Linked DNA regions of Homo sapiens: region 1 is linked to region 2. The links come from fine-mapping of genetic effects on gene expression. A gene starts in region 2. The other region holds a variant in brackets. All regions are shown on one strand. Distances are between the middles of the regions.

Evidence for each region. PIP is the estimated chance that this variant, and not a neighbour inherited with it, causes the effect.
Region 1: its variant is fine-mapped to the expression of OBI1 in whole blood (TOPMed, PIP 0.99).

Annotation. Positions count from the first base shown.
Region 1 is chr13:78,623,787-78,632,131 of GRCh38, forward strand. The region is part of intron 5 of OBI1 (ORC ubiquitin ligase 1); the gene reads right to left. Among named protein-coding and RNA genes, the nearest start is that of POU4F1, 24 kb to the left of the region's middle. The variant C/CA (reference allele first, on the strand shown) is at 3,658.
Region 2 is chr13:78,654,155-78,662,499 of GRCh38, forward strand. It overlaps OBI1 (ORC ubiquitin ligase 1), which reads right to left and starts at 5,001. Exons shown (of 6, transcript NM_024546.4): 1 at 4,895-5,001. The coding sequence starts at 4,966. RefSeq lists enhancers at 3,409-4,369, 4,280-4,359.

The DNA of each region.
Region 1 (8,345 bases), 30 kb before region 2:
TAGGAAGACATATAGTATGTATGCACAAATTCAGTAAACATTTATCAAACCACCACCATATTTTAGGCATAAATCCAGTAATATTTTGAAATTTTAAAAGATCATTTATTAAAGTGGCCTTGCATGAAAGTACAGCATTGACAGACCACCCTGGTAAATGCCAACCCAAATATTTAACCAGAGATATAAAGACTAAGTTTGAAACAGAGCTGAAAGCATAATACTTAAATGTGCTATGTATAGAAAGTATGTATGATAAACTTGCCTGGTTCATGCACAATCAGCAGGTATCTTCAACTACAAGTAAAAGATGTTTTTTATATGAAATGAGAAAAACTAAATGCAAAATTTTAAGGCCTAAACATCACATGGGTTATTTCTCAGGGTATAATTAAGAGAAATAAAAAAATACAAGCTACGTTATGTTGCATCTTAGTTTTATCACAAAACAGAAAGTGTTCCAATATTTGCAAGAATAAAAAATGCCAGAATTTCACCCTTAAAGACAAAGTTGATAAAGACAGGGGAACAAGACAAAGAATTATGCCCTTGCAGTAATTCCTTATCCCTCCATCTTCTAAAAGTACCATTTAAAAATCAAAGTAGAGTTTGCTTTTCAAGTTTTCAAATGAAGAGCAGGGTTAATAATTAATAGCTTATATTATTAACACTATATTATTCATTTATTTTTGAGACAGGATCTCATCCTGTCACCCAGACTGGAGGACTGGAGTACAGTGGCATGATCACGGCTCACTGCAGAACAAAATTTTAAAGGAAATTCTTTGTGTGTTTATCTTATTAAACCAACTATGCATTTGTAGTTAAAAAACTGTGGTGAAAATTCTGAGATGCCTTAGAAATTAATAAAAATGACCTGAGTGTTGAACAGCATATGTGAACTGAAGAGGAACAGACAGCTCCCTTTTGTGGTAAACCTCTAAGGGCTGACCCACATAGTATTGGGTCAGCAGGTGGATAAGGAGAAATACAGAACTAAACTGTGTTCCATGCTGGCCAATTTCACCCTACTTGCTTCTGTGGCAATTGGAACATGGTCTCTGGCCTTCTGTTTGGAAACTGCAACTAGTTAGCCTCCATTTCCAAGGTTTCTTTCCTTCTCTCTGGGCAGCACACTGGGCAAAGTTGCCCAAAACAGGATGCCTAACTCTAAGTACTACTTTCTCTGCATTGCCTGTGAGGACAGACTACTCTTTTTACTGTGGAATAAATTCTATTCTATTTGACAAATATATCTCATTTTGATTCCATGCAGAAATGCCCTCATTTTCTCCCCTCTGCTCCCTTCAACCAACCAAGATCAGCCTTGAAATTTGCAGGACATTAACAGGGATCCTAATCTGTCATGGAAAGGAGAGAAAATTAAGACATGCTATTTCATATCTTTTTATTTCTAAGAGAAATTAAAGGACTTACATCTTTTCCCAAAATAAAATAACCTTAACAACAAAATCTCAATACTGTAAAAGAGTGCAACTACTGTTGAGTGATAAAAAATATACTTAAAAATCTCTGGATTAGTATCTACCTGTCTATACATTTTCCACCTTAACTAAATGATCTCTTATTCTCTCTCAGCATGAAACAAAATCTAAAAGAAAACGAAACACAACAAAAAACTGATCTAGATACCCTGTAATTATTACTCAGATGACAGTTATTGAGGACTAATGTGTGCTCAGGGGCTATGAAGAAGGAAAACAAAGGAAGTAGAAGTGATCATTCCTCTTCTCAAACAGTTCATAATCTCTCTGACAACCTTACTGCTTAGTCATTAGCATGCACTGCCGCCTCCCCAAGTACCTTATCAATACAATAAAGACAAACTGACAGAAAACTGCAGTACCTGTCTATCCCCAATTAAGTGAATATCCAGAGAAGGGTCCCTCAGGCAGCCAAGGGGCCTGAGCACAACTGGCTGTCACAGTCTGGCCCCAGGGTATCATCAGGCTCCCCTGACAGTCTACAAGTTCCCCTTCCGGGAAAACCAAAGGCATAGCAGAATCAGTCATTGGATCAGGCTAGGGTCAAATACTAGGAAATCACCACATTTGTCAGAGAAGAATCGTGATAAACAAAAAAGGCCAGAATAGGTCAAGAAGGGACAACAGCAAGAGCCAGCCAGACCAGCAGTGTTGATGAGGAACCAAAAGGTTAGAGCATTACTAGCACATCTTGAGACATAGTTTAGAAAGAGCAGACCTGTGAAATGGAACTAACTGCACAGCTCAGAGTCAGCATGGAGACAGGTAAAGGAAGGAAAATCTGATTCAAGTAAATAGATGCGGACAAGAAACTCAAGACTATAGCCAGGCAAGTCCCTACTATCACCTCCTCTGTTTCTCTTTCTAACTCTGAATCTCTGGCATAACTTAAAGAGGAAAGCTTCCAGAAATCCTTTGCTCTAATGTGGAGAAAGTTCCAGGAATCTCTGATTTCCTGTTTTCTTACATCCTTTGTACTTTAAGCTTCAAGTATTAAAGTATAAGGACTCTTTCCTTCTGTAAGACTCCATAAAAGGAAGATACACACACATATATACGTATTTTGTACAAATACACAAATGTGCATTTAAAAAATATGTCTTGGTGCCAAGGAGCTGCCAGATTAACTGGGTACGACAGTCATGGAAATGATCAACATACAACACGATCATTAAAACAACAGGGTAGAAGAAGAGTAATCAAAAGTACAAGAGGAAAATGCTACCTCTGTCTAGGAAAATTAGGGAGGGCCTCACATATAAACCAACAACTGGGCTAGATCTCAAAGGACAGACAGGGATTAACCAGGAAGAATAAAAACAAGAGAAGCTAATGTGGAGAACCAGGGAAAATACAGTATGATGAATGTGGGCCCAATGAGAAATTCAGCATAGCCAGAGCAGAGCACAAGAAGCGAGGGGCTAGAGAAGAGGCAAGGATATTAAACTGAAGTTATATAGTAAAGACCCTTTTATACTAGACCAAGAATATTGGGGCCAGGCGTGGTGGCTCACACCTGTAATCCCAGACTTTGGGAGGCCAAGGCAGGCGGATCATGAGGTCAGGAGATCGAGACCATCCTGGCTAACACAGTGAAACCCCATCTCTACTAAAAATACAAAAAATTAGCCGGGCATGGTGGCGGGCGCCTGTAGTCCCAGCTACTCAGGAGGCTGAGGCAGGAGAATAGCATGAACCCAGGGGGCGGAGCTTGCAGTGAACTGAGATGGTGCCACTGCACTCCAGCCTGGGCGACAGCACAGGAAAGAAAGGTAAGCAGTAGAAAGGCTGTTACAACAGGCTAGGCAAGAAATAATATGGATCTAAACTAGTGAAAATGAGAAGATGGATTACAGAGGCATTTTAAAAAGGTAGGCTATAGAGAACATACTAAAGTACTAAAGTCATTAAGAAGGACAGGAACAAAGCGGATCTTTTGCATGGGATGGGGGATTATGAATATGATTTTTTAGACATACACATTCCCCCATCCCACCTCTACCTGTTTTATTTATTCTAAAAAAAAAAAAAAAAAAAAGGATACATGTGCAGAACATTCAGGTTTATTACATAGGTATACGTGTGCCATGGTGGTTTGCTGCACCTACTGACCCATCCTCTAAATTCCCTCCCCTCAGCCCCCACCCCTTAA[C/CA]GGCCCTGGTGGGTGCTGTTCCCTTCTCTGTGTCCATGTGCTCTCAATGTTCAATTTCCACTTATAAGTGAGAACATGTGATGTTTAGTTTTCTGTTCCTGTGCTAGTTTGCTGAGGATAATGGCTTCCAATTTCACCCATGTTCCTCCAAAGGACATGATCTCATTCCTTTTTATGGCTGCATAGCATTCCATGCTGTATATGTACCACATTTTCTTTACCCAGTCTATCACTGATGGTCATCTGGGTTGGTTCCATGTCTTTGCTATTGTAAATAGTTCTGCAATAAACATATGCAAGCATGTATCTTTATAGAAGATTTATATTATTTTGTCTTCCCATTCTTTATACGACACATCATGTCAAGGTAATAGATTTCCTTTAATCCTCATAATAACGCACCCTCATTTTATGTTAAAAAAAGACTTCAAGGTTAATTTATCCAATGTTATTTACTTGTTTATTCATTCAATTATTCAAAAAATATTTATCAGGTATCTTCAGATACTGGGGGCTTTGGAAATGAAGGGGATAGGCAGCAAGGAGCTTAGAGTTTAAAATGGAGCTTAGAGTTTAGAATGGAGGAGACAGACAACAAACAGGCCACGCAATTAAATGAACAAGACAATTTCAGACAGTGATAATGGCTGTGAAGACAATACTATAATATTAATTGCTAACTATGGACTCTGTTAAAAGGGTATTTTAAGTTTCATTTAACTCTTACTATTACTTACAAGATAGGTAGTACTATTAACCCTACTGCACAGAAGACAAAAACTGAGATACAGAAAGGTTAAATATCTTTGTCTAAATCACAGAGCTAGTAAGTAGGCAAGATTAGTGTTCGGTCATATGGAGTCTGGCTCCAAGGTTTGTGTTCACAATCACCATGCTCTACTGTTTTACCCAACCATGATTTTATTATTATGGTCTTCTGTTAAGGCAGTAGAAGGTGCTGAGTGAAAGGGCTGCTTTAGATTGAATGATCAGAAAAGGCTTCCCTTCATCTGAGGATTGAAGGAGACAGCCATGTAAAGATCTGCAAGGAGAGTATTCTAAGCAAAGGAAATAAACACAGCATGTTTTAGAAACAAAGTCTAGTAGAACTGGAGTAGGATGAGATGGAGGAGTTAAGAATTAGACGAAGAAGAGGTGGCAGATGCAGACTAGCCAGTGAAGAGTCTGGATTTTATTCTAGGAAAACACTGAATAGTTTTAAGCAGGAGATTTAAATAATTTTATATGTACTTTATTAAAAGACAGTTTTGAGTATGGTGAAAAATGAATTGGGTAGGGAAAGGACGGACAAAATGGAAGAAGGGAAATTTGAATCCAGGAAGTCTGATTCCAGAGTTAAGCTCTTAACCACCGTGCTCTGTGGTTAATTTGAGGTATAGAATCTCTGGTAAAGGCACAAAAAAGATAGATGAAAACATGAACCTGCAGTTCAGGAGAGAATGTGAGGTCAAAGATTTTGATTTTGTTTTATAATCTCTGACACATAGGCAGACAATTATTAAAGCCCTAAGCTAACTGATTTTAAATTTCATTTCTGATGGCTCAAAAAATACAAATAGAGCAAAAAAGGAAGCAAGCCCAGGTCACAATCAATGAAGTCTATTCCTTCCTCTTCAGAACACTTCTTTTCATATCTTAATAACAGAAAATATTACTTACTGCCCAGAGTATCTAGAGCCTTTATCCTCCCCCAAAAGGAGCTGAGGCATTGCTGAAGACTTGTCCATAATGACAAGCCTTGGGGTTGCTGTACAGTAAAATGAACTGCACTCAGGGAGACATTATCAAACCCATAGATCTCACTAAAGACACAATGACAGAACACATAACATTCCTGCATACATATTTATAGAAAGAAAAGCCATTAATTCAATTATAACCAAGTTTGATATAAATGACCTAATAGTATATCCCATACTATTAAGGTGAGTTAGTAGCTGAGGACAAAAATACCTGCTCTACTAAATCCTCATAATAGTTGGTGACATAGCATGATCCCTGCCTCAAGTGGCTAGAGAAAAAAAAAGTGGCACAACTGAACAGAGACATGGAGAGAGGGCACAGAACTTTCAAATGCTTTACAAGTCAATTCTTCACATCTCTTCAAGTTAAAAAAGTCACTAAGGAACTTCTAACTCTACCAAGGATAAGTATATCCACATAGCTTGGCACAGTTTAGGAGTAGTAATTAAAGTCAAGGGAATTTAGGAATATGAGAAATCCAGTACTTAAGTGTTCCCTTCAGCTTCTTCCCTTTCTTGATGTTTCTTACCATGTGGGGATGTGACACGCTTCACATTCCCCACTAAATATTCAGACTGAGAACAGGCCCTTCTGCTTAGAGTAGAAAGTGGTGGATGTAGTGGAGTCATGCTACCAAACTATAAAAATAGAGGGATGATGGTCACAGTAGAGAGATGTAAAAATTACATGGACTTTTGCTCTGGTAAATTTGAGAAGAAAGCTAGTGTGCTTACTGAGTAGTACCACGATATGTGGCTACTACTACTGGAGAAAAAGGACTGGGGCTGAAGGGACCGCTTAGTACTCCTAACAGCACATGCTGTTTTCTCTCACTCAGAATGCCTTTCTCCTCCCTGAAATCTCCATCCTTCAAAGCTGGGCTTAAGTTCTTTTTGATAAAGATCTTCCTTATCCCTGCAACCTAACCATCATTCTCTGAACCCATACTGCTGTCTCTATTATTTGGCTTAGTATCTGTTAAGCATTTGTTTCATATATTTTCATGTCATGCCTTCATTAACTACTTTTCTGGAAGCAGGGACCATGTTTTGCTGGGGTTTTTTTCCTTAATATAAACAATTCTAACCATTCACAGAAGTAGGGAGAACATAATAAACTCCCATTTACTCATAACACATATTCAACAATTATCAAGATTTTTGTCTTATTTCCTTTGTATTATATCCTTTGCCTTTTGCCAAAGTATTCTATAGTTCATGTTTTAGGATGCATTTCCAAAAGAAAATATGGTGCCATAGACTAAATGTTTGTGTCCCCCATAAATTCTTATGTTGAAACCTAATCCCTAAAGTGATGGTATTTGGGGCAGGGCCAATAGGAGGTGATGGTATAATATTTAAAGGTAAGGGCTTCTGGGGCCTATAGGTCAAAAGGTTCAAGCCCTCATAAGTGAGATTAATGCCCTTAAAAAGATGTCCCACAAAGCTCCTTTGTCCTTTCTGCCATTCGAGGATACAGCAAAAAGACACAGCTGTCTATGAAGCAGGAAGTGGGCCTCACTAGACCAGCTGGCACCTTGATCTTGGACTTCTAAGCCTCCAGAACTGTAAGAAATAAATTTCTGTTGCTTATAAGCCAATCAGTTTAGGGTATTTTGTTATAGCAGCCCAAAAGGACTAACATAAATGGTGTTTTCTTAAGTAATCATGATACCTAAACAAAATTAAGAGTGATTCCTTGCTATTATTTCATTTAATACTTGCTTCATATTCAAATTTACCCAGCTGCCTCTAAAATATCTTTCAACAGTTTGTTACTAATCAGTATGCTAACAAGTCCACATTGCATTTGGTTATTATGTTTCATAGTTCTTTTTTACTGTAAAGCAGCACCCTCCCTCAATGACTTAATGAAGAAACCTAGTCATTTTTCCTATTGAGTATCCCACATTCTGGATTTGTCTGTATGTTTCCTCAGTCATAGGAGTTATGCTTTTTTCATTCATTTACTCAATAGATACGTAGTAGGAGCAGCATGGGAGCCAGAATCCTATAAAATGCAGTGGTTGCAATAGTGACTACATATTATAGCCCTTGCTCAAACAGAACAAAGTCATAAAACAATTACACAAAGTGTTAATTATTAGCAGTTGTGACATTTGCTAAGGGAAAGTACAAGTAATAAGAAATCACAGCAAGGGAACCCAACCTTCTTTAGGGGTCAGAGAGAGTATTTATTTTGTTCCAAGCATCTAGCACAATGTTAAGTAAGAAAAAATTCATTATTTCTGGGTTGGCAAGTGGAGTAAGTCTTCTTCACATATTACTCTTGTAAACTTAAAGGTCATATCACCACCCCTTGAGCTCTGAAGATCAAATCCAAATCTCTTAGGAGTCCAAGTTAGGGGAAACTGAAGGGCCAAACAGGTGGTTTCCTCCAGGTGAAATAAATTCAGAAGCATAATAAGGATTCAGAAAGTGGCTAAATAAAGCCAAAGGAAAAGACTGCATTTTCTGGACAACGAGTTTGGATATTAGGACAAATGAATTTTTGGCAAGGAACAGGATGAATATTATTGAAACCTAGAAGAACATGCTTAGTAGGCTATCTGCCACATTGCTCAAGAGGGCTTTTAAGTTAAAATTGAGGAAGGAAAAATGTCCAGGTACAGTATAGCAGAGGAGACAAATGATAACCAACACCTTCATTTTAAAAGATTATGGTATTGTTTTTAAAAGATTGTATGTAAAATATATTCGTTTTTATACAATACCATGTTCTTGAGACCAATGTAAATCTCCTTTGTTCGTACCAGATTTTAGTCAAGTTTTTGGAAAATAGCATGGTATCTGTTGGAGCATCTTAGAAAGAAATATGTTCTGTGATGGACTGAGCCATGTCCTCACCCTCCCCTCCAAATTCGTATGTTGAAGCCCTGACCTCTAATGTGTCTGTATTTGGAG
Region 2 (8,345 bases):
AATGCTTTGGGATAAACTGGAATTGTACTTGTCAAGTAAGTATGTCAGCTATTACATACCAACCCTGATAATTACTAGGATACATCTACGATTTTTGAATTAACTTATTATACACTATGTATAAAATGCAATATTGTTATACTTTTCTGAAAGTGAATCCTTCAAACTTATTTTCAACTGGAAAAAAGAGAAAAATGTAGAACTTGCAGTCCATATGGCTTTTTTTCAAAGCAAATTACTTATGACAATTATGTACAAGGCTGGTTCTTAAATCCACTCTTGGGAACTGAGAGGCAATCAGGACTCAAACATGGGCTCCATGTACTGACGTGGATGACTTGCTGATCAATCAACAGCTCCAAGTGAACAGTGATTAATGAATTTTGTCATCCTAGAGTGAGGACTCTAAGTTGCATAAGGCTTTGTCTCTAGCCCTATATTTTCAATATTTTAAATAAACAATATGGGTGAGAAGAAGAGAGGCATCCCTGAAAGAAGGGATCCTTTTGATAGCATTCCTTATGGGAAACAGTCAGTCTACTAGAGGATACTCCAAGACACAGGAACTCCTGCATTATAAGGAAGCTGATTTCATTTCTGGTTATTTCAGCCAGAACACTTGCCCTTAATATTAAGTAGAAATCATAATTTTATGGAGCCACACAAGGCTTGAGTCCCTTCCAAATGAAAAATATTTTAATTAAAGATTCCCTATCATATCCATTCATTCCAGCACTATTCCAGTCCACCTACATTCCAATCCCAATTTCATTCTCCCCCAAATGTTTTCAAAATACTCTGGTTTATTGTTTATCTTAAAGGGTAGGACCCAAAACTGGACTCATAGTCGAATGAGAAATAACTGAATATGATACATTAATGCTGAAAAGCATTAGTTGCTTTGCATTTCTCTTGAGAATCTCCTTCACCCTTTCATAAAACCAACTGCGGGCCACATTTGGCTTTCACTCATGGCAAAATGCATGCACGGCCAATAAAAAGTATTACATGCCATAATTTGGTTTCACAGCTTGAGTCCCAATTGAAAAGATAAACCCTGGAATTATCTAGAGGTAAACTGGTTTGTAACAGCCTGGTGGCACTATCAAAATGTCACTTAACAGATACTCTGGGATAGATCATTACTACATTTCTGCTTGCTGGCCCACTAGTTTAAGAAACAAACAAACAAAAAAAAAACAGGGAAGAATAGGTAAGAAAATATGTTATGCGTAAATCATCCCATGGGATGGTACCTAACTTCTTCAGGCCACATAGAGCTCTTACTTACAATATTGGCAAAGTAACTAAAAACATTATTGGGTAGAGAAAATTCACCTTTAAAACTGAAGTAGAGACAGAGGTGTAAATTTTCCAATTTTAAGTGCAAAGACAAAGCATTAACAGGTGAATACCTGGGCTCTCTCTCCTTCCTCTCCATCCCCACTGGCATCTATCTCTTCAGATTTAATGCCCTGCCCTCATCTCTCCCCCTTCATGGTATCCACCTTGTGACCCTCCAGGGATAATGGTCCTTAATTCTGTTGAATAATCAAAAGAGAAGATGCTGACTGTGAGATCTGGGGACATATGGTAACAGTAGCACAAGAACAATTATCTTTAAAAAAGAGCTAGGCACGAAGGACCTTAGGAACATTCTTAGAAGTGGCCAGAGATGCTCTATGTCAGGGAAGCAGAAGCGAACCTGAGGACACGCCAGTTTTAGTATCTCACAGTATAATACGTGTAGGAGGGTGAGCAGCACAATCATACTGAATTTGCTTTCACTATAAAAAAGAAAAGAGACATGGAACCAGCTGAAAATTCTGGATGTACTGTGGCAATTTCCAGAACAAACAGGTCTCATTTGGTTGGGAATGCAAATCTTCATTTTGAAGTGCTCCAGCCTCACAAAGCAACTGGGAAGAACAATTACTGGAAAAGGCTGGTTTCCTCAGTTTGAGGGCTGGCCTCAATGGCTATAGTAAAAGCTAACAGTTATTAAACATTATGTGCCAGACTTTATGCTAAACTTTGCACATGCTTTGTTTAATCTTCTGAAAACTGAAAGGATGGGGAGTTGATGTTATTACCATATTTTTACTGTTACAGATAAGGAAACAGGCTCAAAAGAGTTAAGTAACTTAAGCTGGGAGTGGTGGCTCACGCTTGTAATCCCAGCACTTTGGGAGGCCGAGGCGGGCAGATCACCTAGTTCGGGAGTTCAAGACCAGCCTGACCAACATGGAGAAACCCCGTCTCTACCAAAAATACAAAATTTGCCGGGCGTGGTGGCGCATGCCTGTAATCCCAGCTACTCAGGAGGCTGAGGCAGGAGAATTGCTTGAACCCGGGAGGCGGAGGTTGCGGTGAGCCGAGATCGCGCCATTGCTCTCCAGCCCGGGCAACAAGAGCGAAACTCCGTCTCAGAAAAAAAGAAAAAAAAAAGAAAAAAAGTTAAGTAACTTGTAAAAGGTTGTATGAGTGGTAAGTGGTAGATTAGATTAGAACCCGGCTAGCCTGAATGTAGAACTCAGGCCCTCAGTCACATATCCTTTCTGCTTCCATGGTACCTGGGGGGGGGGGGGGAGGAGCCTGTTTAAAAATCCTTAATTAATTAATTTTCTTTTATTTTTAATTTTTTTTTTTTTTTTTTTTTTGAGACAAAGTCTCACTCTTGTTGCCCAGGCTGGAGTGCAATGGCGCGATCTCAGCTCACTACAACCTCCGCCTCCCAGGTTCAAGCAATTCTCCTGCCTCAACTGGGATTACAGGCGCCTGCCACCACACCCAGCAAATTTTGTATTTTTAGTAGCGATGGGGTTTCACCATATTGGCCATGCTGGTCTCAAACTCCTGACCTCAGGCGATCTGCCCGCCTCGGCCTCCCAAAGTGCTGGGATTACAGGCGTGAGCCACCGCGCCTGGCTTAACCTTTTTGAGCCTGTTTCCTTATCTGTAACAGTAGAAATATGGTAATAACATCAACTCCCCATCCTTTCTGTTTTCAGAAGATTAAATGAAGCATGTGCAAAGTTTAGCATAAAGTCTGGCACATAAGATTAAGACAAAAGTCTTAATCTTTTTATTTTTATTATCTGATTTTTATTTCAGAATAAAGTTAACCAATACAGGAAAAAAAAAACACTAAAAATGCCTGATGTCATGGATGAACTTAGGTGAGGGTTTTACGAAGTAATCTGAAGACAAATGGTAATAATGATAGAGGTTCAACTATGAAGACTCAAAGTCTTAGTATTCTGAAGACACAAATGATAGTATAGAGGTTCAACCACAGACTCTAAGCTTTAATATTCTTATTTTAAAAATGGAAAAACCAGCCCTATCTTAAAGCATTGGTGTGAAGAGTAAACAAAATAATATATGCATACAAAAGCACTCTGTAGTCTGCAAATCACTATATTCTATGAGGTATCACTCTCGTTAAATACAAAAAGTATAGGTTTGGTAAATCAAACAGAACACTGTCAATACAATTGCAAAAGACAGCCTATAACTAATGGAAACTATATATAATGTGTACAAAATACTTCCCAAGAATATTTTTATCAGCCTTTAAAGCCAGTGTTGGAGGAAATTAACTCAGAATTTAACACATATTTCCAGGAACTTTATGTCAGGAGCCAAATGTAGACTGTGGCAAATAGAAACATCGCTTCTTCCCTCCCCCTAGCCGTGCAGGCAGTAAGTAATAGCTCAATGCCAGCTCAAACACCATCCTCGATGAGGCCATCCTTGATCTCTCCAAATTGATCAAGCCATCCCCAATCCATGATCTCCCAGCACATTTGCTATTTCATTGGCATTTCATTCTGACTGCTATCCAGAATTATCAGTTGCTTCCAATGCTGACTTTCTTCTACTTTTTGAATCCAGTAAATTCACACAGAACTTCAAACACCCCAGGCAGATCGTATTGGCCGGCACTCAAATGCTTGCTCTAGAAGTTTGTATTTCTCAAATCTGAGTCTACGGCTCAGTCTGCGCTGGGGGGTAAACACACACCCTGACACACCACAGACGTAAAAATAATTCAGGGTGGAAAAAAGTTGGTGGTTTATCTTTCCCCTTCTTTATCTATTCGGTAAAGAAATGCTCTTTAAAACACCGAAAGTGAGGCACAAATGGAAATGAAAGAGGAGAGGAATGCATTAGAATATTCAAAGCTCCGTTTCTAATTCAGAACCACTTTCCCTACCTTGTTTCACAAACACACTAGGCACCTCTTGCATCACAAAGAGAGAGTATTCTATCTCCTGACTGACCCATTCTTGGAGTTAAAAGCCACACCTCTTATTCTAATACCCTCCAGGAGCACTTACTATTTACTTTTCAAATTAGGAATTCAGAGCAAAGGTCATCCTCAAGGCCAGGATAAAGGCAAAAGGTCTTGGAAATGGAAAAGACTCAATACACAGCACCGTAGGCCCCAGAGGATGAACACTAGTTACAGAGGACTAAGAAGCCCGAGGTGAGGCTCCCAGGAAATGTGTTTTAATGGGCTTCACTACACGCCACGCGAGGCTGCAGAGGGAAGTTAAATATCCCTGCGATGCGTTTCTGATGGGGCCTCCTTCGAGGCCGGTGTCTTGCCAGTGTGAGGCCGCGGGCGGTGGCAGGGCCGTCTCGCCGCCCTCCCGGCAGACCACGGGCCGCTGTCACCCTCCTCCGAAAGGCGCCCAGATGAATCCATTAATCACGGTGCGCTACCCCCATCTCCCAGGACGCGGCCTCCCATCAAGAACGCGGGTTAGCGTTTTCTCCCATCTCCGCGCCTCACGCCCCTTCCCCGCCCCCGCACGAGACGGCCCTCGGCCCCGGCGAGCGACTTATCCAACCCCGTTTTGTAGCTGTGCCCACAATCACCCATTACCTTCCCCAAGCAAATGTGGCACGTGATGGGCAGAGTGAGCGACAATGTAACATTCTGCACGGTCTGAGCCATGGCAGCGTTCAGAATCCCGCCAACACGGAAGTCCCGCCGACCTACCGCTACTCTTCGCCAAGACTGGGCACGCGCGGGCCGGCTACGGCGCCCCGGTAGGGCCATAACCCGCCCAGGAGAGAAAACGAAAACGCGCTTTCGAAACGCGCGATCTCCAAGGCGTTTTCCTTTCATTAAAAAAAAAAAAAAAAAAAAGAAAGAAAGAAAGAAAGAAAGAAAATTCACTGATTAGGGAGCTGCAAGATTCCTGCGAATGTGTAGGAAGGTAGTTTACTACAAGTATCGAGGATCTTGGAAAATCTAAAGGAAAGCGGAATAGTGGAGACAGAAGAGGAAGATACGGAAAGGCGATTTTTTAAATCCCCAAATTGTTTTCGGGGATTGGATGGGGTGAAGGATGGAGAGTTTTTCGCCTAATTATTAAACCCCACACATCCGCCAACACAGCGTAATCAAAACATAGAGAAAAGACATTATCTACACGTTTCAATTTTTTTCAAAACAGCTTTCCACCTCTGTCAGTTCTCTTTCCACTCAATATAATGTGCTTCCAGAGGGCACAATAATTCACTTAAGAAAACAGTGATTGTCTCCTTATCTGTGTCCGAGACGATCCTGATACATTTAATCGCAGCTTTCCCTGAAAATACATTTTTACTGTGGGCTTCTCTGGGTTTTCCACCAAAAGGAGATTAACGTTTTCACGTCTTCATTTCAGGTGCATGGTTGCATATGAAATGTACCGCTGTGTTGTTGAACCCCAAGGGAGAATTTGTGAGGTTATAAGTTGCGTTTCCTACCAACAAAAAAGAAAAAAACCTAAAAGTTCCTAAATTTATCTTAAATGCAGTATAACAAATTTGGAATTTATCTGCAACTTACTTGAAGCGAGGAAGAGCTGATGTGATAAATTACGCTAACAAGTAAAATCTGTGAGTTGAGAGATTTAAAGACAAGACCATCGGGACAACTTTTACTAATCTTTGTGAAAAAGACGCAGTATGACTTCAAGAAGCAGCCTCATGGTTAAGAGAAAGGGGTTCTGGACCTGGGCTGCTTCAGCGGAAATCCCTGCCCCCAACAACTTCCTACCTAAACGGTAGCTCCATGGCTTCTGGCAACTTTTGTTTTGTTTTTTGAGATAGGGTCTAGCTCTGTCACCACTAGGTGCCAACACAGCGACCTCCCAGGCTCAAGCGATCCCATCCGCCTGCCTCAGCCAGCCTCCCGAGTAGCTGGGATTACAGTCATGCGCCACCATGCTTGGCTAATTTTTGTATTTTTAGTAAAGACGGAGTTTCACCCTGTTGGTCAGGCTGGTCTCCAACTCCTGACCTCAAGTGATCCGCCTGCCTCGAGGGTCGGGGAGTGGTTTCCCCATGTTGCCCAGGCTGGTCTTGAGCTCCTGGGCTCAATGGATCCCCCCTCCTTGACCTACCGACAGTGCTGGGATTACAGCCGTGAGCACTATTCTGCACTCTACTTCTGTGAGATCAACTTTATTAGATTGTACATGTGAGATCATGTGGTAATTGTCTTTCTGTGTCTGGCTTGTTTCACTCAACACAGCGTCCTCCAGGTTCAACCATGCCGTTGCAAATGACAGGATTTTATTATTTTTTATGGCTCAATAGTATTCTATTGTAAAGACATTTCTTTTCAAAACATTTCCCATTACTTAATGGGGCAAGTTCATTTCCTTGTAAATCATCTTGTTGATGGGTGTCAATATGTAGTCACAAAGATAATTTTAAAAATCATATCCTGCATTTTAAGTAAAGTATTAAAATTTAGACTATCTCTAACATCTCTTTCCACATTTCATACCATTGTCACAGCTTCTCAGTGTTTCAGTGCACAGTCCATACAGCCATTTCTGTGCTGATGACATTGTATTATAGTTGGTGATGTGTTTGTCCCCACAACAGGCTATGTTTCTTGAGGTCAGGGATTGCATCCAATTTATCTAATGTCTGTAATAGGTTACTGTTCCACAAATAGTAATATTCTCATTTGCTACAGCCTACCTTTATAATAAACTCAGGCTGTTTTATTTTAAACAATTTCTTTACTTGTTTTTAATCTCAAAATGGAAGATTCTATTGCTTTTTGAGAATTATAAAAATAACACATGCTCATTTTAAGAAAAACAAGCCATTAAAAAGTATATAAAATAAGTAAAAGTTCCTCCATATTTCTGCCTCACCTCTGTATCCAGTGTAGAAATCACTATTAACATTCTAGAACATATCCTTAAAACATACTAATTCATCTATTACTGTATACATAAGCACAAACAAGGTCATAGCATAACATACCTGCTTTATTCACTTAATGTTTTATGAATCAATACACATATGCCCTCACACATGCACACACATATCCAAATAATATTGTTAGCAATATAGATTGATTAGGACTCTTCCTCAGTCCAGATGAATGCCAGGCTAGTTCCCAGGCTTTGCTTTTAATAATGCAAGTGGCTTAAGGTCAGGAATTATCTCTTCTCTGCTCTGTGAAGGACATTTCCCATTTTTTGACAATTCATGTTCTAAATAGATGTCGTTTGGCCCAAATCACTAAAAGATCCTACCATTACCCTAATAGGAAAACAAAAATTATGTGGTTCACTGCTGCTTAATTTTGATCACCACATCTTGGTAGCTTTTTGAGCAGCCCTGTGATCTGATGAGTTCTATTACATTTGACATCTGGAATGGGCTAAAGCTGTCCTACATCCTTAGAATTATAAACATTTAGAGCTAAAATGGCTCTTAGGGGTTGTTATGCAGGCCTTTCCTTTCACAGATGAGGAAATCAAGGCCTACATAAGGTAAATCACCAGATAACAGTAGAATTGGGGCTAAATCCTAGATCACATTTGCTGGACTCTCTGAGAATGTTGGCCCAATGCCTTTGTGTAAGTGCAAGATGTATTATTATTAATAAAGTGTCTCAGTAATAAAAAGTCAGTCATAATTGAATTTCTTTGCTAAGAAAACCATCAAATAGCTATGGAACACCTTTTACCCCATGTTTAAATCAGATTCATTTTGATGATAAATTATTTAAAAGCAAGTTTAAAAAAATATAAAATCTTAAGTGCTATTAAAAATTGATTAGGAATGCATTATTCTTTCATTGACCCAGTTTGGATTGTTTTTTAATTTTTTTGGTCAAAGCTAATAAATTTGAGTAGATGTTTCAGACAGACATTTTGTAATCATTTGGTCATCAGTCAATTAATCACAACTTCATAAATATTGATTTCAGCTTACATTATTTTTCATTCCTGAAAGACTTTTTTTTGTTTGTTTTAAATTTGTACACCCCACCTGGATTGTGGTTAACACTGAGGAAACTCATAAAGATACATTAA